Linked DNA regions of Homo sapiens: region 1 is linked to region 2. The links come from fine-mapping of genetic effects on gene expression. Tissue or cell type: whole blood. Region 2 holds a variant in brackets; the other region holds the start of a gene. All regions are shown on one strand. Distances are between the middles of the regions.

Region 1 (13,873 bases), 90 kb after region 2:
GAGGCTGAGGCAAGAGAATCGCTTGAACCTGGGAGGCAGAGGTTGCAGTGAGCCAAGATTGTGCCACTGCACTCCAGCTTGGGTGACAGAGTGGGACTCTGTCTGAAAAAACAAACAAACAAAATTATCCTAAGCAAATACGGTGTCTGAAGACTAAGCTGACCCTGTTTCCAAAGTCAAATGTCCATAGGCTTTGGAAATATCATGAGTGGCATGTCGCAAATCGGTTATCCAGTCACTCTTTGCCTATCTGAAGAGAATACAAATTACACAACTTTTTATCACCAAAGATAATTCCACAGATTGTGTAAGTGCATGGTCATGAAATAGTTGAAATTGGTCTTTCTTTGAAAGATAGCATAACTAGGCCAGGCGCAGTGGCTCATGCCTGTAATCCCAGCACTTTGGGAGGCCGAGGTGGGTGGATCACCAGGTCAGGAGATCGAGACCATCCTGCTAACATGATGAAACCCCGTCTCTATTAAAAATACAAAAAAATTAGCCAGGCGTGGTGGTGGGCACCTGTAGTCCCAGCTACTCGGGAGGCTGAGGCAGAAGAATGGTGTGAACCCGGGAGGCGGAGCTTGCAGTGAGCCGAGATCGTGCCACTGCACTCCAGCCTGGGCGACAGAGTGAAACTCCATCTGAAAAACAAAAACAAAACAAAAGAAAGATAGCATAACCAACAGAAAAAGCCTGGCACTTGGAGTCAGTAGACAAGAGATATAGTTGAGCTCTGACAGTTACTTTTCCCATGACCATAGACAAGTCACTCATTTTCTCTCGTCCTCTATTTCCTCTTTGAAAACAATGGTGATGATACCCTCCCTCTTTCATGGGATTATGGCAAGGTACAAGAAAGTGCCTTATGCCGGCATATATAAATGCAGGGGTTCGACTTCTCAATACCAAAGATGAGCTCAAAGATCAAAGCACAGCGACTCTGCACACCACAGACTCTGAAGCTATAATAATCACTTGAAACAGCAAAAAAATCCAAAGACTTCAAATCCCATAGAGCAGTGGAAACATGACACAGGAGCTGTTAACTCCAGGGACTATAAGTGAGCAATCAATACCAAGGGAAAGGAGGATCCAGGAAAGTTAACTTTTTGGAAGCAGATGTCTTTGAAACACACAATTGGGCAAAAACAAAGAAACAAAATAGGCATTGTATCCCAGAATGTGTTTCCTTATTGTAAAAGGACCCCAAAACGAATCAAGCATTTTATTTTCTTTCAAATCAGCTCCAGAGTATGACTTGTGGACTCTGTCGTGATTCTGAGTCCACTTCACGTGTACCCATATAACACCCCCTGTACAAAGCCAATTTCTACAGAAGTGAGCAATTCCTAGCAAGGATTGGAGGCAATTCCCAGTGGTTTTGGTCTAGCAAACCACATCACTGACTACTACTGAGTTGGGCTTAGTTTTAGAGGCAGCAGGCAGGTGGAATTAAAGATTAAAAATTCTTCTTTCATGCGGGCTGGGCGCAGTGGCTCACGCCTGTAATCCCAGCACTTTGGGAGGCCGAGGCGGGTGGATCACCAGGTCAGGAGATCGAGAGCATCCTGGCTAACACAGTGAAACCCCGTCTCTACTAAAAATACAAAAAAATTAGCCGGGCATGGTGGCGGGCGCCTGTAGTCCCAGCTACTCAGGAGGCTGAGGCAGGAGAATGGTGTGAATCCTGGAGGCGGAGCTTGCAGTGAGCCGAGATCTCACCACTGCACTCCAGCCTGGGCGACAGAGCGAGACTGTCTCAAAAAAAAAAAAAAAAAAAATTCCTCTTTCATGCTATAAATAGCTTGATCTTCAAAATGTGTAATCTTGCCAGAACGACCTTGCAGAAACACTGATAACTTCCTCAGAAACATCCACACATGGCATACTTGCTTGATTTTCCTCCTGATTAATAAAAGGTTCCCTGTTGATTACATACTACCTGGTGCTCTTTCCCATTATCTCCAACCCTAATTTTGACACTTAACCTAAAGTGGAGGAATGTGGACAGCCAAATGACATTTTTAAAAGGATTCAGGAGGCAGGTTTCTTAAGGGCTCTGCAAGTCTGATGACCCAGAAAATCCACAGGTTTATGGCCCACCCGTGAGACAGTCAGAGCTTTAGATATGCAACTGGTGTGTGGAGAAGTAGGACTCAGGGTAAATGGCAGGTGCAGGCAGTGAAGAAAAGCATACCTCTCCTCCCTCACCACTGCCAGCTAGTCCCCTGCCCCGTGACCCACCCCTTACACCCACAGCTCAAAAAAACAGCGCAGAGTGGCAGAGTGCATGGTTTCTATTCATCAACAACCTACTCGGACAACCAACCTTCCAGGCTGAGCAAAGGGGATGGGTCTGATAATAGCTTTATCAACACTAAGCCAGCTATTTGGGGTGGGGCATGGGTGGAGTGGCTGTCCTCCAAAGGAAAGGAGTGACAGGAAAACTGGAGGGAAAGGCCAGAAGGGGCATGGGAGCCGTGTGCTGGAGGTTAATAACAAAGTTCCCGGTTGCTGTTCTTACCAACATCAAGACCGTCACTGAACTATTTTCAAAGAGAAAAACATGCCACCAGCCAGCGATCCTATAGAGAGAGCTTGGGCTTGGACTGTCACAGGGGGAAACCTAGCCCTTCCTGTCATGGAGAGCTCGAAAAGGGCATAACACACATTGTGTGTGTAATCATATTGTGCTGGAAATACTCTCATTTGCATGTTGTGAGTTTTTACATTTAAATGTGTGGGATTCCACTTTTATTTTTTAATGTATACAGGTTCTACAGTCAGATCCAGGTGTCCCTCCTGTCTGTGTTACATATGGTCAAGTAACTAAGGGTGTCCCTCCTGTCTGTGTTACGTATGGTCAAGAACCTCAGTTTCCTATCTATAGAACTGGAATAATAATATGTAACACATAGAGTTATTGTGAGGAGACTATGAAAATAAATACACTTGTTTAGCGCATCATTTGGCAGAGTAAGTGCACAATAAAAGTAAGGGATTGTTATTAGCGTTGAAATTATGATGGAAGCCTTGAGCTCTCTCTTCTGGCTCTGCACCGTAACTCCGATAAATTTGCTACAGTTTCCTCATCTTTGATACGAAAGAGTTAAATCGCACATTCTATCATTCCTATCCAGGTCAAAAAGTCTTTGAGTCAATGGATGTACTATCTGCAAGTAAAATCATTATTTTTTATTATTTTGCTATTAATATTTTGAAAAGGCATGGGTTTTTCAAAGGAGCCTGTTGGCTCTCAAAAATACAGCAGTTGGATAATTCAACTGCTCCCATTTAGACATTCCATTTTATTATGGGAGGCTCGATGATTCCGGAGACACAATTTCACCAGAGGGTTCTCTTCCACTATCAACCTGTGGAAAATCTGAAACTATACCAGGAACAAACTCCCTAAAGAATGACTCAGGAGGAACCCCCTCCCCCAGCAGTCAGACAGGGAAGTCACAGACCACATGGCCGCGGGCTGACCCAAGGACCTCACACAAATGCCATACCGAGGAACAGAGAAGTTGGGACTATTTTTCCTCATTGGCCACTCTACATTTTGTGGATTCTTCTACATTTGAAGGAAAAGAAGGTGGAGAACTTCTCAATGTCAGACTAGCCATTTGTTTAGACAGGGCATCCGAAACTGCTTCCATCAGAGAACATTGGTTGGTGCGGTACTCAAGACCCACTGTGCTGAGGGAAACTCGATCGCAGAAGTGCCGTGCCCTGGGTCATTTTTAATCCATTCTCCACAAACAACAAAGGATGGTAAGGGTGGGGAGAGAACAGTGTTCCCTCATGGCAGGGGGCAGAGGGCGAAAGAAAACCGTATAGCTTGAGCCTGTATGAGAATCCATTTGTCACACGAGGAAACAAGCGCACTCCAGGTTGTCCTAGGCTTATCACAAGCAAAACAACTATTTGGTGAGACTTCAAATAAAAACAGCCCCTCTCTGCCCACCCTCCTCAAGATCCACGCGATCTCCAGAAACAGGAACCTGTTTGGTTATCTCCCTGCAGCCTCTGATTCAAAGACCTGTCACTTTCAGAGCTTTACGTCATCAGTTTAGAGCTCTGCCCTCTCTCTTTTCCCCTTTTGCCTTTCCTCTGAAGCATTCTGTCTGGTGACTACCAAGGAAGGACAAAAGTCACCGAACAACAGCTCAGTTCCAGCATGGTGCCTGCTTTGCTGCTCGCCCAAGCGCAAGCACCATTACTGCTGAATGAACCTGAGAAGGAGCCGGTTCTCTCCGTAATTTGGATGCCAGGCCTCCCAGAGTTAATCATCAGCTGCAGGCAGCACTTTCCCAGTCAGGTCATAAACAAGGAAAAAACAGCCTGAGTATCACGAAAACACTAAAATAAGGAAGACCAGCGGCAACCGAACATTTTAAAGTAATGAAGGTGAAGGAAGACCAGGGGCAACTGAACATTTTAAAGTAATGAAGGTGAATTAGCTTGTTGGGGGGAAAAAAAGTCGCTATAAAATACAGCTTTCAATTAGTTGGAAACCATGCAAGAAATCTAAATATGATTTCTAATGTGAATCTAAATATTATTTTGTCAGTCTTCTATATTGCAGACAGTTCTACACAGTTAAATGAGATATTCTCAAAAATTGAATAGGAAAAATCAAATCAGCCATACAATAAATTCACAAGTTACTTTAAACAACTACGTTTTCAGGTTTCAGTGGTAGAAACAGATTAAAATCAAATCTAGTCATCAACTCACTTCAATGAAGTCTCTACTTCATAACCTGAACTTGACTTTGAACCTAAACACCATGGACTAGAAAAATCTTGAACACTGGGAAACAAACTTTCTGTTTCCTAGACAGGAATGAAGCCATATGCCCCATTCATCCTCAAAGTTACAAGACACGTTGCCGAAAATAACAGGTTCTAAAAAAGGGCTGTGAAAACACCAATGGCTGTTAACAGGTACAAATAAAATATCTCCTTCTATCGTGCCAGAGGGAAACCAAAATCAAAATCAAAAGTTGTTGGTGGCTTGCAACACACACACACACACACACACACACACACACACACACGGAGAGGGAATGAAAGAGAGAGAGAGAGAGGAAAGTTCTCCAGTTACTTACTAGGGTGGTTTTGTCGTGGTATTTTTCACATCAGCACTCTGCCTGTCCAGCTGCCAAGTGCCGGAGCACGCCGAGAGCAGCTGTTTCCTTCAAGCTGGGGCTCTGAGTCTTAACCAGTCACATGTACCTCCTGATAAATACCGCCCGCCACCGTGCCAGGAGGTCAGAAACTGAAGATCATTCTTCTCCTCACTCGCAAACCACCTCATAACCCCTGAGTTGGCTCAGCCATCTCATGAGCATGCAGAGCGGGATATTCCACAATTTGTTTTCCTTTAGTGACAAAAGCCAAACAGCTGATAAGTCACACTGAAGGGCAGGTCACTGCAAGTGGAAAGTTAAATGTGTTTGCGTGTGTGTGTGCGCAGAGGGGGAGACTGGCAGGCTCCATGCTCTCTCATCTCACTCAAGTTTCACTGGGGCTCTCGAACGGCAAGAGAGAGGATCACCAACTCGCACAGCAGGTGGAAGTTGCTCTGTGTTAACCCCGGAGTACAACTGTTTGGTTTCGTTTTCTCAGAATCTCAGGCTCCAGTTTGTTAGACGAGCCACAAGCCTGACTAGGTGGCTGGTGCTGGGGAAGGCAGACCCTCACTCACCATCTAAGAATGCTTAGGTTGGACTTCAAAGGCCGGGGCTGCTAAGCCAAGGGACGCTGAGGGGCAAATATGGGAGGGGTTAATGAAGACTATCAAAGGCAGCTTTATCTGAAGAGCTCTTGGAAGTGATTTCAGGTAGCTTTAGACCAAACTTCCGCATTGTTATCTGTTGAATTGCATCGAGCAGCTGAGATTATCAGCCGGCGAGTGTGAATGCAAACAGAAATTATCACCAAGTTGACAACGCGCTTTACAGACGCACTACTGCCCCCTTTGGTGTGCTGGGAACTTGGAGCAAACTGCCGTTTTCTGTGCTGCTCGCAAACGTGGCAAACCATCCCTGATGTTTTGTTGAATTCATATGTCTCACCTGAGCTGATGTTCCCACCCTTCCCTTTTCATCCTCCCTTCCAAGGAAAGCCCTTGAAGTATCTGACTTTACGTAGTGTCTGACCTTGGATGTCTGACTTCTTGGTATAGTAAGGGTGACACTTCCCCGAATCAGTGTCTGAGCCTGCCCTTCAGGTAGAGATATGACATAGAGGCAGCCTATTTGGCAAAGTGAACATCCAGAAAAGATGGTTGAAGTCCCCCAGGGGATTTCTGAACCATAATGTGCCTGTTAAACTATTAACCCTGATTTTTAACACATAATATCTTACTCAGTGTAAGAGCCTGTGTGAGTAATCTTTTATATTTAGGCTTTGTCTCATAATTATTTACAGTGTTAATCAAACCAGAAATTTCCCTCCATATAGAGGATACAGTGTTTTCTAGAATAAGAGAAAAAGACAAAAAACCCTCAGTCTCACCATACTATCAGGGCAGTAATTTGTTGTCAACTTGTGAGAGTCCGAAGAGCAAATGGGAGAATTTTGTAAGCACCAAAACAAATCCCTTCCTCAGCATTTCAAGTTAGTAATAGAAATAAACTTCAGATATAAAAATGCAATGCATAAAATACACATTTCCCTCACAGGCATTTTTGTTTATGTGTTGATGTGACAATCTTCAATTAGAAACAGAAAAAGAGGCCTACTGAGGATTTGAAACATTATTTTGATTTACTTACCCCCTTGTATTTACAGTAATAGAAACTTTTGTGATCTGATGGCATCCATCCATCACTTTGTTTACCATTGACTGGGTTAATTATTCTGATGATCCATTGCATGCCACATAAAGAAACAGGGACTTCTAGAAACTCTTCAATGCCCAACAGCGACAACAGCCTCAGGAAAGTTAAGTTGTATTAGTCCATTCTTGCATTGCTATAAATACTTGAGACTGGGTAATTTATAAAGAAAAGAGGTTTAATTGGTTCATGGTTCTGCAGGCTATGGAGGAAGCATGATACTGGCATCTGTTCGGCTTCTGGGGAGGCCTCGTGAAACTTACAATCATGGTGGAAGGCAAAGTGGGAGCAGATGAGTCACATGGCCAGAGCAGCAGCAAGACAGACAGGGGGCACTTCTAAATGACCAGCGCTTGCCAGAACTCACTATCAGCTGGGTGTTGTGGCTCATGCCTATAATCCCAGCACTTTGGGAGGCTGAGGAGGGTGAATCACCTGAGGTCAGGAGTTTGAGACCAGCCTGGCCAACATGGCAAAACCCTGTCTCTACTAAAAATACAAAAATTAGCCGGGCGTGGTGGTGTGCTTGAACCTGGGAGGCAGAGGTTGCAGTGAGCCAAGATCAAGACCGCACCACTGCACTGCACTCCAGCCTGGGCAACAGAGTGAGACTCTGTCTTAAAATAAACAAATAAATAAAAGAACTCACTCACTATCATGAGAACAGCACTAACAGGATGGTACCAAACCATTAATGAGAAATCTGCCCCTAAGATCCAATCACTTCCCACCAGGCTCCACCTCCAACACTGGAAATTACATCTCAACATGAGATTTGGGTGGGCACAACATCCAAACTACATCATAAGTGTAAAGCAGGAGTCCCCAGCCCCCATGCCATGGACAGGTACCTGTCCATGGTCTGTTAGAGGCCAGGCTGCACAGCAGGAGGTGAGCAGCAGTCAAGGGAGCATGACCATCTGAGCTCTGCCTCCTGTCAGATCAGCTGTGGCATTAGATTCCCATAGGAGCATGAACACTATTGTGAACTGTGCACGCGAGGGATCTACACTGCATGCTCCTTATGAGAGTCTAATGCCTGATGATCTGAGGTGGAACAGTTTCATCCTGAAATCATCTCCATCCCCTCATTCCCGGTCCATGGAAAAATTGTCTTCCATGAAACTGGTCCCTGGTGCCAAATACATTAGGGACCACTGGTGTAGAGGTTCTTTTCTAGTTCTATAGCCAGGAGAGGAAGGGATGGATCCTCAATCCTCCCTATGAAGCAAACTGTTAACACAGAGGCCAAGACCCAGGACCCTTTCAGTCAGAGTCCAGGAGTGTGACTAAAGGTTCTACAATAACACAGCCTTGCAAAGAAATGGGGGAGATCCCATCTTTCTGCCCACACTCCCTACCAGTTCCAAGCATTGTCTTCGACTCAAGAAGAGGTGCCCTCTTCCTGTCAAGAGGCCACCTCCTACCTCGGCTTTGTGTCTCACCCTGTGTCTCCCACCTGCTTAGGACTCTCGACAACAACCACGCCTTCTCTTGCTCTCAGCGTGCGCTCATTAGCTAAACATGCTCACGTTCTCACATTGTCTTTATATCCTAACAACAGTCTTTCTGATTTTTTGCTTTTTTTTTTGAGACGGAGTCTCACTGTGTTGCCCAGGCTGGAGTGTGGTGGCGCGATCTCGGCTCACTGCAAGCTCCGTCTCCCAGGTTCAAGCCATTCTCCTGCCTCAGCCTCCTGAGTAGCTGGGACTATAGGCACCCGCCACCACGCCCAGCTAATTTTTTGTATTTTTAGTAGAGACATGTATTTTTAGTAGTAACATGGGGTTTCACCATGTTAGCCAGGATGGTCTCCATCTCCTGACCTCATGATCTGCCCACCTTGGCCTCCCAAAGTGCTGGGATTACAGGCGTGAGCCACTGCCCCCAGCCAGACTTGCTCTTTTAATTACTGCCCTAACTCCTGCATTCCCTCCACAACTAAACTCCTGAAAAAATACTTGTCTTCACCATCTCACATCCCATTTACTCTCAACCTACTTGTGGCTTGGCTTTTTTTCCCTCACTTCACTGAAACTGCTCTTTCCAAGTCCCCAAAGACCAAAGGCAACCGACACTTTTTGCTTTTTTTTTTTTTTTTTTGAGACGGAGTCTTGCTCTGTCACCAAAGTGCTGGGATTATAGGCGTGACCCACCGCGCCCGGCAATTTTCATGTTTTTAGTAGAGACGGGGTTTCACCATGTTGGCCAGGATGGTCCCGAACACCTGACCTCGTGATCTGCCCGCCTCAGCCTCCCAAAGTGCTGGGATTACAGGCGTGAGCCATCTTACTTGACCTTTTGGCTCTATTTGTCCCAACTGACCAACCACCCCTTGAAAAGCTCTCCCATGGCGTCTATAAAATTTTACTACTACCTCCTTCATCCTCAGGTCTGGGCTTCTCTTCCGCTATCTGCCCCTTAGGTGTGAAAATCCTCTCTTCTCATCTTGCACTCTTACCGCCCCTCATATGTTCTGATTTATTACTGAAGGTCTGCGGTGATTTCCTAATTAATCACCTTGCCTCCAAAAAGCCTGTCTCTGATCTCAATGTATGTTTTACACGCTAGGACTGAAAGCCCCTCCGGGCCATCGTAGGCAACTTTGTATTCCCAGAACCTTCAGGGCTTCACTCCCACTCTAGCTGCCTGCTGCTTTTGTACATTTCGCTGCGGTTGCATTTCTTTCTGTATTATAATTAGGTCTACATGTGTCTGTGTTCCATCCAAACTTTACCAATCTAAGACAAAGCTTATGACTTATTTTATATCCTGCAATGCCTAATACAATGCCTGGCATGTATGAGACACATGGTGGAAACAATCCTCGATGAATAAATGAATAATTAAAGAGAAGGATCTTCTGTCTAGCCCATTAAGAAAAAAATATAAGAAAAGTTTGCAAAACTTGATTTTATATTAGGCTACCAAAAAAAAATTGTAAGTAATTTCTTTCCAAAAGAAATTGGCCATATTCTGTGATCACACTGTAATAAAACTATACATTAATTACAAAAGTGTAAGTCAAAAAGACCCCACGCTCTTGGGGAAACTTTAGAGTTCTTAAAAAAAAAAATCATTGATTGGAGAATAAATTAAAAACACAATTACAGAATGAATGCTTAGAAGGTTTCAGTGATGAGAATACCACATATCAAATATTGGGAGACATAGCCAAAATAATAATTAGAAGCAAACTGACCCAGGAAGAAGTCAAAAAACAACAGATCAGTAACCATGGAAAAATGTAAAAGTTAATAAGGAATTATTTCCAAAAAAAGCTCTTAGTTCAGATTACTTACACAATCAAGTTCTAACTGAGCTTCAAGCAGAATTAACTCCCATGGTATATGAAGTGTTCAAGTGGACAAAAGTAACAGAAAGCTAACATAATACCCTGTCTTAAAAAAAAAAACTGATAAAGCATAATAAAGAAAACCACAGACTAACTTCATACGTAAACATAGGTTGCCCTAAAGATGTAAAAAATAAGGCTGGGAATAGTGGCTCACCCCTGTAACCCCAGTGCTTTGGGAGGCCAAGGTGGCAGGATCACCTGAAGCCAGGAGTTTGAGATCAGCAGGGGCAACATAGCGAGACTCCATCTCTACAAAAAAAAAAAAAAAAAAAAATAGCCCAGTGTGATGGCAGATGCCTATAGTCCTACCAACCTGGGAGGATGAGGCAGGAGGATCACTTGAGCCTAGGGGATCAAAGCTGCAGTAAGGTATGATCACACCACTGCACTCCAGACTGGGCAACAGAGAAAAACTTTTGGATTGCCACAATAATCTTGAAAAATCATTTGATAAAATTCAATATCAATTTTTTAATTAATAAAACAAAATTAAAAGACTGATTCTTAACATGATACTCATGTTAATTCAAATCTCAAATCAAACATAGGCATCATACTTAATGGTAAAATACTGGAAGTATTAATGTTAAAATCAGAAACAAGAAAAGCATGCTCATTATCACTACCATCCATTTAACACTGTTCTAGACATTTGAGCCACTGCAACCAGGCAAGAAAAAGAAACTAAAGAAGAATTTTATGAGAAAAATGGAGACAAAAGTATTCAACCTGCAGATTGAGTAATATTCATTTTCTCAATAGAACAAACTAAAATTTGCTTCTAAATAATTAAAAAGTGAGGTGAACAGTTACAAATAAATATACAAAATAAGTATACAAAATTAATTGTTCTGGCCACGGAACAATTATACAGAAATATATGAAATTTTCCATATAACCCACAAAAACTTAGAAAACATAATAGAAAATAATTCTTGGCCGGGCGTGGTGGCTCACACCCATAATCCCAGCACTTTGGGAGGCCGAGGAGGGTGGATCACAAGGTCAGGAGATCGAGACTATCCTGGCTAACACGGTGAAACCCTGTCTCTACTAAAAATACAAAAAATTAGCCGGGCATGGTGGCGGGCGCCTGTAGTCCCAGCTACTCGGGAGGCTGAGGCAGGAAAATGGCGTGAACCCGTCAGGCGGAGCTTGCAGTGAGCTGAGATCGCGCCACTGCACTCCAGCCTGGGCAACAGAGTGAGACTCCATCTCAAAAAAAAAAAAAAAAATTCTTAGTTATAGTATTATTTATAATAGCAACAACAACAATAACATTTCTAGGAATAAAAAAAGTGAATAACCTATTTAAAAATGTAACTTTACTGAGAAAATTAAAAACAGTTTGATACATTTCTGTATTGGAAAGTTTTTCTGTACTGGAAAACTTAACATTGTAAATATATTAATTCTCCCTCAAATTAATTTATAAATATAATCAAATTTTGCTTAAAATCCCAAATAAATTTTTCAAACAGGTCAAAAATCCTCAAGTTTATTTTAAAGAATAAAAAACTGAGAATGGTAAAGAAAATTTTAGAAAAGAACCACAAGGGAGATATTAGGTACTAAATAGGCTAAAAATAACGTGAATTTAAAGTTTGGTACTAGTGCCAAAAGAACTAGAGCAATGGAACAGAGCCAAAAGCCCAGAAATACACATAGAAGAACTACAGTAAAATGTTTATTGTATTTGTTCAATATGGTTTTTAAACCCAGTGGGAAAAGAATAAACTATTCAAAAACAGGTTAAATCATTAACTATTCGGAAAAATTAAGATGCAATCATTACTTCATGCCATACACAAAGTAAAAGCATGTTAGACTAAAGAGTTAAACATAAAAACGCTGTACAGCAGCACGGTGGCTCATGCCTGTAAACCCAGCACTTTGGGAGGCCGAGGTGGGCAGATCATCTAAGGTCAGGAGTTTGAGACCAGCCTGGGCAACATGGTGAAACCCCTTCTCTACCAAAAATATAAAAAATTAGCTGGGCATGGTGGCCCATATCTGTAGTCTCAGCTACTAGGGAGGCTGAGGCAGGAGAATCACTTGAGCCCAGGAGGTGGAGGTTGCAGTGAGTCAAGATCGCGCCACTGCACTCAGCCTGGGTAACAGAATGAGACTCCATGTCAAAAAAAAAAAAAAAATCACATACAAACTTGAAGAGAATCACATGATTGGTTTTATAATCTTAAAATTGTTTTAATCATGATTAAATACTTTTGTCCTGAAAACGTTTCAATCACAGTCACAACAGAAGGAGCTATAAAGATAAAAGTTCACGATTTAAACCATAAAATATAAAACATATATGTAAAATATAATCCAACGGTAATCAAAATTAACCTACAAATAATAAAATGAGATTCAAAAGTGAAATACGTATGGTAAAGGGTTAATGGTCTTAACATATAAATAGCATTTACAATTAACAACTGGATATTAATAAATAGTTCACAAGGGAAGAAACATAAATGACCAATCTACACATGAAAAAGTCAGCTTCCCTAAAAAAGGAGTATACATTAAACAACGATAAGATACAATTTATTATCTATAAACTTGACAAAGATGAAAAAACGAAAATTCTCAGTGTTGGCAGGAGGTTTGGAAAATGGCACCTTCATACTCTACCAGAAAGAATATAAATCGTACAACATAGGAGGAAGATAATTTTGTAATGTATGTCAAAAGCTTTTTAAAATGTGAATACCCTTTAACTCAGCAGTTCCTGTTCTAGAAATATATCCTAAGAAAAGAATATGGATTGCATATGTATAAGGATATTTCACGCAGCATTACTTATACTAAGAAAATATTAGAAAAACATCTAGGTGCCAAAAGTAGTTGAATAAATTAGAACATATTCATAAGATATGGCACTATGCAATTATAAAATAATGTTGAAGTGGCTGGGTACAGTGGTTCACACCTGTAATCCCAGCACTTTGGGAGGCCGAGGCAGGTGGATCACGAGGTCAGGAGATCAAGACCATCCTGGCCCACATGGTGAAACCCTGTCTGTACTAAAAATACAAAAATTATCCCGGCATGGTGGTGTGCACCTGTAGTCCCAGCTACTCAGGAGGCTGAGGCAGGAGAATCGCTTGAACCTCGGAAGCAGAGGTTGCAGTGAGCCGAGATCATGCCACTGCACTCCAGCCTGGGCAACAGAGCGAGACTCCGTCTCAAAAAAAAAAAAATGTTGAAGCATATTAGTAACATGGAAAAATATTCAGCATCGATTAAGTGAGATATAAAAGTTACAAAAGTTTATTCAGTACAATCCCATTTTTCTAAGAAAATATGTGAATATATTAAAAATCTGAAACATTATATATCAAATTTTTAATAGTGATTATTTCTGGGAGTTGGGGGTCACATATATTTCCTCCTCCTTTATGCTCATCAGCATTTATCTACTGTTTCTATAATAAATATTTATTAGTTCATTTTTTAATGAGATCTTTTTAAAATAAGAAAAGAGATACTGGACTTACAAAGACACTTAAGTACTTCAATCATCTACACAAAGAGAAAAAAACAAATCATGTACACTAAGAGAGAAAGAAAGAAAGAAAGAAAGAAAGAAAGAAAGAAAGAAAGAAAGAAAGAAAGAAAGAAAGAAAAAGCCTCACCATCCATTAGAAAAACCA
Region 2 (13,444 bases):
TTCTAGAAGTTTTTTCTTTGTGTTTTAAAACAATGTAAGTTACACTGAAATTATCTACACTTTAAAAATTCAATAAAAATTTTCTGAGCCCGATGGTAATTTTGGACAATAGCTCTTCAATAACTGTACTTTTTTTTTTAATTCTTTTTTTTTTTTTTTTTTTGAGACAGAGTCTTGCTCTGTAGCCCAGGCTGGAGTGCAGTGGCACAGTCTCGGCTCACTGCAAGCTCCGCCTCCCGGGTTCATGCCATTCTCCTGCCTCAGCCTCCCAAGTAGCTGGGACTACAGGCGCCCACCACCACGCCCGGCTAATTTTTTGTGTTTTTAGTAGAGACGGGGTTTCACCATGTTAGCCAGGATGGTCTCAATCTCCTGACCTCGTGATCCACCCGCCTTGGCCTCCCAAAGTGCTAGGATTACAGGCGTGAGCCACCATGTCTGGCCTTTTTTTTTTTTTTAATTCTTAGATCAGTTTTTGTAAATTATAATTTCCTAGAAAATTATTCACTTGTGGTTTTTATTTTTTGGCTTGGATTTGAGAAGTTTAGCCATTTATTTGTACTCTTTCTTGTCTATGAACGTATTTAAGACTAAAACTTTTTCTCTGAGTAGTGCTGAGGCTGAATCTTGTAGTTATTCTGATCTGTATTTTCATGATCATTTGCTAGACTTTGATTTCCTCTCTTATTCAAGAGTTCTTTAGAAGAGGTAGGTTTTGTGTTGTTTTGTTTTCATTTCTGAACTTTAGCTACTTCATTTTTCTAGTTTTGCTCTCAAGTTCTAATTTTATGGCATTACAGCATAATTTCCTCTGTATTATTTCGCAGGATTGAAACTTGATATTTCTCTTGTGGCCTAATCTGTGGTCAATTTTTGTGGCTGTCTTACTGAAGATGGAACAGGAGATGTATCTTTGTTTTCAAAGGACAGAGTTCACTATGCACATTTATCAATTGTAGCATCATGGTTTAGAGTACAGACTCTGGAGCCAGATTGATGAGAACCAAACGTCAGATTCACTACTGTGATCTTATGCAAATTACTTCATTTCTCTGTGCCTCAGTTTCTTCATCCGTAAAATGGCTAATGGCTATAATAATAGCATCTACCTCTTAGGGTGTTGAGAGGACTCAATGCATTAATATGTGCAAAATATCTTGAACAGTGTCTGGAATGGAATAAATACTATATATGTTTTAGCTGTTGTAAGTATTTAGATCTACCTTGTTAATTAGTTCTAGAGCAGCATCACTGTCTTAATTGAAATATAATACAGGCCACACATTCAATTTCAAGTTTAAAGTAACTGTGTTAAGGAAGTTTTTTAAAAGTGAAATTTTATTTAACCCATTATATAAAAACCATTATTTTACATATATCAATAGAAAAAATTATTAACAACTTATTTACCTTCTTTGTTTTGTGCTATTTGAAATCTGGCATATTTTGTACTTATGGCACCTGTCAATTTGGACTAGTCATATTTCAAGTGCTCGTTAGCCACATGTACCTAGTGGTTACCGTGTTGAATGGCACAGGTCTAAGCGCCTTATTTTTTGTGTACTTGGTACTTGGTTATATCATGAGCTGAGTGAGAGGATAATACATATTTTATACCACTAATATATTTCTGTGTATCTTTGAATCATCTATTCTTTTTGTTCTGTAAATGATGATGCTCTATAATTTGGTACAAAGATATTCATAATTATATTTTGATTGTGATCTGTATCCATTAGCATTAAAATGGGCCTACTTTTGTCTCCTTTTTTTTTTTGAGACGGAGTTTCTCGCTCTGTCGCCCAGGCTGGAGTGCAGTGGCGCAGTCTCGGCTCACTGCAAGCTCTGCCTCCCGGGTTCACGCCATTCTCCTGCCTCAGCCTCCCGAGTAGCTGGGACTACAGGCACCTGCCACCACGCCTGGCTAATTTTTTTGTATTTTTAGTGCAGACGGGGTTTCACCGTGTTAGCCAGGATGGTCTCGATCTCCTGACCTCGTGATCCACCTGCCTTGGCCTCCCGAAGTGCTGGGATTACAGGTGTGAGCCACCGCGCTGGGTCCATTTTTGTCTATTTTTGTGCCTTTTTTTTTTTTTTTTTTTTGAGACAGAATTTTGCTCTTGTTGCCCAGGCTGGAATGCCATGGCGCGATCTCAGTTCACCACAACCTCCACCTCCCAGGTTCAAGTGATTCTCCTGCCTCGGCCTCCCCAGTAGCTAGGATTACAGGCATGCGCCACCTTGCCTGGCTAATTTTGTATTTTTAGTAGAGATGGGGTTTCTCCATGTTGGTCAGGCTGATCTCAAACTCCCGACCTCAGGTGATCCGCCTGCCTCGGCCTGCCAAAGTGCTGGGATTACAGGCGTGAGCCACCGCGCCCAGTCTTTTTTTGTGCCTTTTGCCTTGAATTTAATTTTGTGTGATACTATATTTATGATCAATGTTTTCTTTCTGCTTGCGTTTGTTTGGTATATATTTGCCCATTTAAAAAAGTTTTCAGCCACCTGAATCACTTTACAGCAGGTCTCTTGTGCACAGCATAGAATTGGGGTTTTTTGGTGGTGGTGTTATCAGTCTGAGTACCCTTTAAAAAAAAGTGAGTTTAGCCCATTTATATAACAGATGTTTGAACTTAGTTCTCTTATATATAAGTTCTGTTTTCTGTTTTTATAACTTTTAACTTTCGTATAGAGTCTCTTTGCTTTGGTTTTTTGCATTTACTCTGATATTTAGGAAGAATTAAAATTTTGCTGTAATGTGGACCTTTATAACTATGTAGAATTGCCTTCACCTTACACTTCTTTAGAAAGAATTGCAAAAAAAAAGAAGGGACCTAAAACCTGGAAATAAGGCAGAAGATGGCTGTATGTCCTCGGGTGTCATTCTGCAGCAGTGTCTGACAAGCCTGCTTGAGAGCCATCTGTCTTTCTAGAAGCAGTTCTCAAGTTCAGTACCCAACTAGCATCATCAGCGCCAGCATCACCTGGGAACTTAGAAATGCAAGTTCTCAGGCCCCACCCCAGACCAACCGAATCAGAAACTGTGAATGAGGCCCAGCAATGTGTGCTTTAACAAACCTTCAGGTGACTCTGATGCATGGACAGTGGTTCTCAGCCAGTAGCAATTTTGTCACTTAGGGGACATTTGGAAATGTCTGAAGACATTTTTGGTTATAAAGGAAGTGCTAATGGTATCTAGAAGGCAGAAGCCAGGGACGCTGTTAAATACCCTACAGCGCACAGGACAGCCCCCTTCCCACTTCCCAACAAAGAATTCTCTGGCCCCAAATGTCAATAGTACAGAGATATAGGAACCTTCTTTACAGGAATGTATTTTTGTTTCATTTACTATTTACTATGGATTAGGGCTCAGTTTCTAACTTCCAGAAAATGGGTAAGATACAACAGATTTTTTATCGGGTAGAGGTGTAAATTATTTCTGTCTAGTAGAGAAGATAACCTCAAAGATTATGGTTTAATTGCCTTGTAGGATATTATATTCATGTGTGCTGTGTAGCAAAATACCCTAATACCTAATAACATAAAACAATAAACATTTATTATTACCATGATTTCTGTGAGTCAGGAATTCATTAAGTAGCTTTAATTCTTGGAAAAACAATTTTCATATGCTCTGTAGCAATTTTGTTTTCTGGTGAGTTTTCTGACATCTGTTTAACTGTCCTTTTTTTTTTTCTTCTCATATCCCCTTGGTTTTGGTTTTACCTCTGTTTTAATTTTGAGCTTTTATTCAAAATCTGTGGGAAGTTCCTGTAGGGAAGGAACCAGAGTAGAGTTCAGGCCAGGTGAAATTTCTATTATCCTAGGTTTTGAGTGTGAGTTCAATTAGTCTTAACATCTTGCTGGGCACTGGCAACTATGGGATTTTTTGTTTTTTTTCATCATAAAGAGCCTCTGGCATTCTGCTGTCACAGAGACAGATTGCTTCTAGCAAATATTTCTTGTCAGTGTGCCCTGGCTCTCCTGCTTCTCAGAACCAAACAGGCCCGGGAAGCTCCTGCCACCAGCTAATATATCCTTGTTTCTTCTGTTGTAAATGAAGATTGAGGATTTGCACTTCAGAGTGTGCCCTTCTCTCTGAGCGGGATATTTGCTGCCGCCGGGTGTGTGTGCGTGTGCGTGTGTGTGTAAGATATTTGCTGCCGCCTGGTGTGTGTGTATGTGTGTTTTGAGGCAAAGCCTCACTCTAGGCTGGGGTGCAGTGGTGTGATCTTGGCTCACTTGCAACCTCTGCCTCCTGGGTTCAAGCGATTCTCCTGCCTCAGCCTCCTGAGTAACTGGGATTACAAGTGCGTGCTGCCATGCCTAGCTAATTTTTGTATTTTTACTAGAGATGGGGTTTCACCATGTTGACCAGGCTGGTCTTGAACTCCTGGCCTCTAGTGATCCACCCACCTTGGCCTCCCAAAGTGCTGGGATTACAGGCATGAGCCACCGCACCCGGCCTATACTCCATATTTAAATCTTTCCAGTTGTCCCCCAAATACCTGCTTTACTTTCCTTTTCTTTTTTTTTTTTTTTTAATCCAGACAGTGTGTCGCTCTGTTGCCCAGGCTGGAGTGCAGTGGTACAATCATAGCTCGCTGCAGCCTTGAACTCCGGTGTTTAAGTAGTCTTCCTGCCTCAGCCTCTCAAATCACTGGGACCATAGGCGTGAGCCACTGCTTTCTTCAAAATTTGACCCAGAATCCAATCAAGGTTTGTAACATCGCATTTCACTGTTGTGTTTCATTCAATCTTTTCTGATCCAAAATTGCCCTTTCCCTCCTTTTTCTGTTCGTGATATTTTATTTTTGAAGTGTTCAGGCCAGTTGCTTTGTAGAATACTCCAAGTAATTCCTTCTTCATGCTCCTGTGGATAAACTGCATGTCACTTAGATTCTGAATGGGTATGAATTCCAACGTGATATGCTAGTAACATTTTTGAAAGACAAGATAAAGTAATCATTTTTGTTTGAGGTCTGAGTGCTCTCTAGACTTAGGCCAGCAGGTTTTGGATGCAGCCAGGAGGAAGCCATTTCCTGATTAAGCCTTAAATGCCAAGTAGTTTCCTATACTTACCCACCTTCAATAGTTGTAAAATACATTCCAGTTATCAAGTAAATGCTTTTTATTTTAAAAAGTAATGTTGGTTTTCCTCCTGTCTCCCTGTGTAAACTAATAAATTCTTTTTAAGAGGCAACCTTTTGAATATATTTATATTTTATCCCATTTATGTATACCCAATATATGGATTTTTCTCTAACCTCATTTACATTTTACTCATTTGGTTTCTTAATCTTGCAGGCCTGTTTTCAAACAGGACAAGACTAGTCAGTGTTACAATCAAACCAGAACTAATCCTACACACACATAGTGCCAGAAATAAGAAAATCTCTTTTGACTATTTTCATTAATACTTCTGTTTAATCTTTTTTTTTTTTTTTTTTTTTGACAGAGTCTTGCTCTTTTGCCCAGGCTGTAGTGCAGTGGCGCCATCTCAGCTCACTGCGAGCTCTGCCTCCTGGGTTCACGCCATTCTCCTGCCTCAGCCTCCCAAATAGCTGGGACTACAGGTGTGCACCACCATGCCTGGCTAATTTTTTTTTGTATTTTATTACAGACGGGGTTTCACCGTGTTAGCCAGGATGATCTCCATCTCCTGACCTTGTGATCTACCCGCCTCGGCCTCCCAAAGTGCTGGGATTACAGGCATGAGCCACCATACATCTTTTTTTAACAGAAAATTTAGTTAAATATTGGGTTTAGAGCCTCCAAATATACAGCCATATAATATAGAGAAAATCTGGGCTCTTGAGACAGTTTTAGAGAAGAATCCTGCTTAATTGCAAAATAATAATAACATAAGGTCTTTACAAATACTTTTACATATATTATCTGACTTGATCTTTACCAAAACTCTATGAGGTAGTTGAAGAGGGTGGTGAAATCTCTTTTTTTCAAATGAAGAAATTGAGGGCTCAAATAGATGTACCTGACTTGCCCAGGATTCCATGACTGTAAGCAGCCAAGATGAGATTTCAGTCTGGTTGGGAATTGCGTGCTAAAGGTACACTTTTGTGGTACAGTTTCACTGAATTGATCTCCTCAGTCATTCTAGAGCTTTATATATTTTGGCAAAATTCACATATTTATCTTAGGAATAATTAAGCTTCCTACCATCAATAACAGTTTGACGTTCTCTTCTGCAGAAGTCCTGCCTTCATTTTTAAAATGCAAACTCCTCTGTCCATTGTAGAAACTTACCATGAAAATCTGGGCACATTATTGCTTCAAGGGATATCCACTCAACACAAGGGTTCAAATAACCAATCATGGCTCCTATGGTTTAGGCAGGTCTGAGAAAGCATCAGTCAATTTGTAGATGCTCCAATGAAGATGCAATTGAAGCATTTAATAAATCCTGCCTTCATACCTCATTTTCATTGTTAAGAAGAGTTTACTTTTGTTTTTCCTTTCAATTTTCAGGGTGACAGTGATCATCAGACCTACAAAATGAAGGTGAGGAGGAGTCAATTGTGATTGTTCTTTTTGCCCCATCGTGGATTTGCCTATTTTATTTTACTGATGATGGGAAATTGATAGATTGGAAACATCAGAGTCACTGGTTGTCAGTAAATGATATAATCATAATTATAAGGCAGTTTTGTTATAGACTTAAATTAGTCTTCAGCAAAGTAATAATAGGGGGGTGTGCGTGTGTGTGTGTGTGTGTGTGTGTGTATACAGTAAGTAAGTCCTCACTTAACATGGTCTGTAGATTCTTGGAAATAGCAACTTTAAGTCAAATGAAGTGTTCAAACTGGTCCTCCACAAGGTAATTTCATTCAATTTCCTTTCATTACAACGTTGATGAGAAAAAAAGTTGGTCTTGTTATAGTTGTTTCAAGACCAACTTCAAGTTGTTAAAGTAGCAGTTTCCAAGAATCTATGGACAAATGAGGACTTACTGTGTATATACACACACAATATACAGGCCCATATGTAATTTATATATGTATATACATAGTTATTCTTTTTTATTTTTTACTCAAGTTACATTTAATATCTTTATCACAGGAAGGCTGGCAATATAAAACTTCCTATGTACGAAAACTCAAAAATAACCAAAGTGGCAAGTGAATAATTCCTTTGAGAAGCAAAAGAACAGTACAATGTTTATTAACACGTTTCTTCCTGAATTTTCTTCAATTTTTTTAAACACACAAAAAGCTTTTCTGTACTTAGATTGCTGTTTGCTGTTTTTAATGTTGTTAACATGCATATTATTGCATTTATGGATAGTAGTAGATAGTGTAATATACATGAAACCAACATCTAGGGATGGCTGCCTTCTGAGTGCTTTACAGATGGCACGTTCTCTTATTATCCAGCTTAATCACAGCTCCTCCAACTGATAACTTCACATCATCTGCAGTATTTCCAATCTGTAAATCTGGTTGGCACAAGTTGGTTTTAGCGTATTTGGAACCGTATTTTAAATCACTGGAACTACTTTGCCTTAATGCCCATGGGCTGTCAGCTCCCAAGGGCTAAGACCAAGTTTTTCTTAACTTTGTGCATATAGCGTGGGACCTGCCCAGAACAGGTACTCAACAATTTTGCTGAGCAGAACTGTCCTCAATGGAGAAAAGAAAGGAGAAAGGCTTTACTGAAGACTGCCCCAAATACAAACAAATTCCATTTTAAATGGAATATATACACTTTAGCCCCCAAATGCAGACCAGTGCACGTCTGTGTAGTTTCCGACTAGTCACCTGGTAATAGATCATTCCTGTCATTCACAGGCTCAGTCCCAGCTCTATTTTTCAGTATCTTGAATCAAGTTCTCTCTCCTCTAATCATGGAAGAAATAGACCCATAACTAGTTATTTTGGGTAAATGGGAGCTATTTAAAAAATTGATATTTTAAAAGCTTAAATGAAATGTTAATCAAATATGATTTATGATTATTTTCTTTCTATGAGTATTCTTTAATTGTGGAAGGCAGTTTCTTAGGAAGGGAACAAGGGTTCTCTTTTACAACCAAAAGTTTGGTGGTGGTTTTTTTTTTCACAAAATTATTGAGTTTAAAAAAATTGATGGTTGTTTTGCATTTCACCTAGTAGCTTATTCAATGGTTTGTTTTTCTGCTAAATGTTAACCGTCAAAACTTGAATTAATTTCTTAATTGCTATTTCTACTTCAGGAATCTTAAGAAAGATGGCTTAACCCAGTCAGAAGGGACAAGCATAATTTTCTTCCATGGCTATTTAAGTAAGTATTAGGAGAGCTTTCACGACCATGCTATAGCTTCCTAGTGACGCAGAATTGGTAAGACTTGTGTGATATATACATGTGTGACTTGTTACATATCATAGCAACTGTGTAGTGGGAAGGATGTAAACAGTTTCTCCTTGCAGTTGACCATCATTAGAAGAATCACTGCATTCCAGTGTCTGATGAGCTTCCTAGTCCTCAGGAAAATGTTAAGTTCTGGTCCCATCCAAAAAGCACACCAAGAAGAACAAAACAAAACAAAACAAAACAAGAAAAACAAAAAATGAAAAAAACCCCTCTAAATAAACTCCTTGTTAACTGTTCCCTGCCACAGCACACACAAAAGTTTATAAAAATATTGAAAGGATAGTCTCACAAAAAAAGCGAAGTCTGAGTTTACAGACTGAGTATCAAGTACATGCAAAAAAGCTTTCAT[T/C]TCACCCGTATATAAATGGTCTAGAGAAAGATACATGAGAAAAAAGTACTGACTACATAACACAGTCTTTGTGGCACTTAACTAGGGGTAGGGGAGGAGGAAATAAATAGTTCATAGTTAGTTAGTTAGGGTCAATTCTCTGTCCCATAGTCCAAACATGGAGATCCCACAGTGTCCCAAGGCAGTAAACATCCAGGTATCTTTCCAGATAACTTCCTGAGAGTCAGAGCTTTCTTCAGAGTTTCTCGTCTTGCCCCTTCCAAAAGCCAACATTATTGCCTTCAGTTTCCGCAGCCTGAAGTCAGCCATCCTGAAACACAAATTGGAACCTATTGCATGGCTGGATCTCATATAACAAAATAAGAGTGTTCCTAGAAAGCAGTTTTTCAGATGACTTTGAGGGAACATCTGAAATGATCAGTACCTTGTAGTCTCAGGATTTAGTGGGAATTAGGAGATCATGTAGGTAGCTGGGTGCAGTGGCTCACACCTATAATCCCAGAGCTTTGGGAGGCTGAGGTGGGAGGATCACTTGAGGCCAGGAGTTCAAGACCAGCCTGGTAAATATAGCAAGACCCCGTCTCTACAAAAAAATAAATAAAAACCAGCTGGGTATGGTGGCATATGCCTGCAGTCCCAGCTACTTGGGAGGCTGAGATGGGAGGATCACTTGAGCCCAGGAGTTCGAGGCTGTGGTGAGCTATGACTGTACCACTGCAGTCCTGCCAGGGGGACAGTGAGATCTTGTCTCAGAAAAAAAAAAAAAAAAAAGAGAGAGAGATCATGTAGTTCACCCAGCATATGAACTCTTAAAGACTCCAATATGGAGTCCAACTAGGATGTTGACCTTAAAGGGTGTACCACAAATCATTAGTCCCTTGAAATGGTCCTTGTTAAAAGGTTTCCCTCTTAGAAATCCACAGTGTAAATTAGTGCAAGAGGGCACTGAGAAAATCTGTAAATCTACATATGTATATGTACATATGTATGACTATGTATATTACATATATTCATAAACATATTCCATTTTATTTAGTCAGCATTTCCCAACCCTTTTATGATAAGTATTTGTTGACTAAATTTAATTTAGTAGAAGATAAAGGAAAACAAAAGAAGAAGTTTAAAGGAAATACATGTATTCTTACTGCCAAGAGAGTAATCTTGAACTGTTCTGACATGTAGTGGTCATTGGGGAGATGACATACACTGCCACAGAAAATGTTCGTACCCTTATATTTTAAAATGAGCGTAAATCCTGGAACTCCGTTGGAGGAAATACACAGATTACAAACACACGTACCTTTTCTGTGTTCTAAAGTCTTTAACTACAGGACTCACAAACATCATCTGATACTAAATAATAAATGTGTAGGTCAGTGCTCCTAATGCCATTTATTGGTCTTGCCTGGCAGAAAAAAAAAAAATCTTAAATTTGCAAACTCCTTTGTCTACATATTCAACCGCTGGGTATAATTTTGTCATTTTTTTTCCCTTCTTCCTTATTCCCTAAACAGAGCAAACATCTCATTTGTTACTGATTTGAATGGTACTGGAACTGTATACCATATATATGCATTTCATATAAGAGCATACGTCCTTCATTAATTAGCACAGATGAAATTAAATACTCGTGGTCAGTGAACCATCCCTGTGCTTTAAGAGATAAAAACACAGCTGGGCGCGATGGCTTACGTCTGTAATCCTAGCACTTTGGGAGTTTGAGGCAGGTAGAATACCTGAGGTCAGGAGTTTGGGACCAGCCTGGCCAGCATGGTGAAACCCTGTCTCTATTGAAAATGCAAAAATCAGCCGGGCATGGTGGCACATGCCTGCAGTCCCAGCTACTTGGGAGGCTGAGGCAGGAGAATCGCTTGAACCTGGGAGGCAGAGGTTGCAGTGAGCTAAGATTGTGCCACTGCACTCCACCCTGGGTGACAGAGTGAGACTCCGTCTCAAAGAAAAAAAAAAAAGAAAGAAAAGAGATAAGAACACAGAAAGGATAAGAGAGCATTTGAATATAAAAGTTCAATTTCCAGGAAACAAAATTAAATTTTTTTAAAAACCCAGATACTTGTTTATATTTCCTTATAGAGATTAATGATCAGGATATCTTACCTATTTGATTGTCTTACACCCAACAGGCTGTGAATTTCTCCTAACTCAGAAGCACAGTTTTTAAGTAACTTGAACTGTGAGAGGCCAATAGTAATGAGCTCATGGCCAATTTCACTATTTGTTAAACAAAAGCAGGTTCTCCTCTGAATTCAGAGATGCCCACAAGGTGGGCGCCATCCTGAGCACTCTGGTAGGCGTCCTACCATCTACCTGGAGAAGCTCTTTTTCTGACATTCCAGGGGCAGCTACAGCACCCACGGAAACAGCCTCTGCAGGCTGAGTTAGTGTATGGGGTGACTAGACAGGGAATCCAGAAAATCTTCTTGCACAATGATTCTTTGCTTTTTTGGATCACATACCCCCCAGGAGAATCTGTTTGTTTAATGCATGGACTCCTCTTCCCAGAAGTGACCATATGTCCATGTATATTTTACACGGAGTATAAAGTACTGTCATGAACACCCTAAAGCCATTAAATAGACCTCGGGTTAAGAGCTGTTGACACCTAATCATGATCTTTCTCTTATTCTCGTTTATATTCCCAGCTTGAACTGTGCTAGGCCAGTAAAAGAAGTAGGGGGATAGGACTGATACAGTTGTCAAGATGATCAGTGGGGGAAATGTTAAAAATAAAGTGGGCATTGCAAATCTATAGAGACAGAAAATAAATTAGTTGGCTGGGGTGAGTTGGGGGAGAATGACTGCTCGTGGGTGTAGGATTTCTTTTTGGAATAATGAAAATGTTCTAAAATTAGATTGTAGTGATGGTTGCACAACTTTGTGAGTATACTAAAAGCATACTGAAAGTATACTAAATTGCATACTTTTAAATGGGTCAGTTTCATGGCATATGAATTACATCTCAAAGCTGTTTTTAAAAGTGGATGTTATAGAAACAAAAAAAGTGTTTCAGCAGAAACTTACAATAAACCTTGTATGACCAGAGATAATGGGTGGCCTCCTTATGCACTGCCTTCAGTGAGGAAGGAACTAGGGGAATTTCTGGCTAAAGGTCACTGGAGTTTTTCTCATCATGGGAAATGTATGGAGACGTGTGTTTAGGTCTCCTGAAGAGTGGAATGTGGAGGACCACCCATAAGACTAAAGAGCACTGGCTTGATCCAGTAGGATCTCTGCCTAACCCAATATTCTGTTTATGAGAACAATTCGACAGGGTGGCAATGGCTGTCCTCCATGACATTGCTTTAAATGTTAGGAATATCATGCCAATTTTCTCAAATCCTTTCTCTTAATACACTATAGACTGTTAACTAATAAATTTATCTAACTCCATCTTGAATCAATTTCTGTGTCAGCATACTCTAACAAATTCCATCTGCATCCTACTTTGCTTTGCATGATTTTGCTCATGCGGAGGCAGAGCCTGGTTTAGAGATCCTCAAGGGCCTCGTATCTCTGATTCTCACCACCCCCTTTTCCATGATGCTGTCAAAAGCTTCTTTTGAGCAGAATGAAAAGTTTCCAATTCTCCTTTATCTAAAAGTCTTTTGCTTCTACTGCCTTTCTTGAGTCTGGGCCCTGGTTCTAGCTTGGAAAACCAAGCTGATCTGTATCGTGTACTGGTATTTTGGATATATAGTCATGGGTTTCTGGGGCATCATTTCAGTACGCACACATGACAGCCTTCAATAGGTTTCAGAACTTGATCTCGTTCAATTTTTTTAAATCATGATACTGAGATCCATAAAGAAGAAACATATGTCCAGGGTCACATAGCTAGGCAGTGGCAAGACTAAAAGTGATACATGTCTTCATTCCCAACCATTCTGCTTTCAGAACTACCAGGCTGCCCCCCAGACCCTCTGTAACGCTCATCTCAGCACTTTCAGCCTCCTTCTTCTGGTTTTCTTTGTGGGTTGACCTAGCACTTACCTCACCATCCTGTCTGGTCTCTTCTCCTTCATCCTGGTCAAGTTCAAACTCCGTGCCCCGGTCTACAACATCCACACCAGCATGCACCCTGGGCTTCTCATTTTCCCATTTGGCAAAGCCTTTGTCCTTTGCTGCTTTGTCATGGAACTTGGATTTCATTTTAGGGAAGGTGTGGGACCCCGAGTCCCCCCAGCCAGCCTCTGACCAGACAGGTTCAGTCTGGGTGGCCTGGCTGGTGGTGGCCCTCTGTAGCCTCACAGAGATCTTGCGAGAAGAGCCTGTAACCAGTGTGATGGCTCTGCTGTCTAAATCCCTGTGTCCAGCAGTGACTCCAGGGAACTCAAACACCTCATCCTGCGCTGGAAGTGAAAAAGGGTGGTGATTATTTGACATCTGACTGCTTGACAGCAAAGCATCAAGGTTAGTGCAAACAGCACGAGTCTGGCATGCAACATTCTAGAGGAACCGACAAGGGACAGAACTCAATTAGCCGCAGGCAAGTTACATATTCCTGAGACTAGAAAGCAGAGAGAAGCAAGGATGATTCAAGGGTTTAGCTACTGCTGCTCACCCTAAAGAAGGCCTTAGCGTTTAGAGTGACTGACCGGGTTTAGACCCAGAACCTAAATGAGGTCCAAGTGTGAGGAGGCAAGCAGAAAGAGACCATGGCAGCAAAGAAAGCAGAGGGCATTACCTGGGGGCAGCGAGGGGCTTCCAGGC

Evidence for each region. PIP is the estimated chance that this variant, and not a neighbour inherited with it, causes the effect.
Region 1: RASGRP3 starts here. The variant in region 2 is fine-mapped to the expression of RASGRP3 in whole blood (TOPMed, PIP above 0.99).

Annotation. Positions count from the first base shown.
Region 1 is chr2:33,467,954-33,481,826 of GRCh38, reverse strand. It overlaps RASGRP3 (RAS guanyl releasing protein 3), which reads right to left and starts at 5,178. Exons shown (of 18, transcript NM_001139488.2): 1 at 5,120-5,178. RefSeq lists enhancers at 1,893-2,062, 5,523-5,842.
Region 2 is chr2:33,558,311-33,571,754 of GRCh38, reverse strand. RASGRP3 (RAS guanyl releasing protein 3) reads right to left here. Exons shown (of 18, transcript NM_001139488.2): 16 at 13,419-13,444; 17 at 12,725-13,083; 18 at 7,024-9,026. The coding sequence ends at 9,018. It overlaps RASGRP3-AS1 (RASGRP3 antisense RNA 1), which reads left to right and starts at 2,325. Exons shown (of 4, transcript NR_146505.1): 1 at 2,325-4,719; 2 at 6,490-6,522; 3 at 8,210-8,277. The variant T/C (reference allele first, on the strand shown) is at 8,717.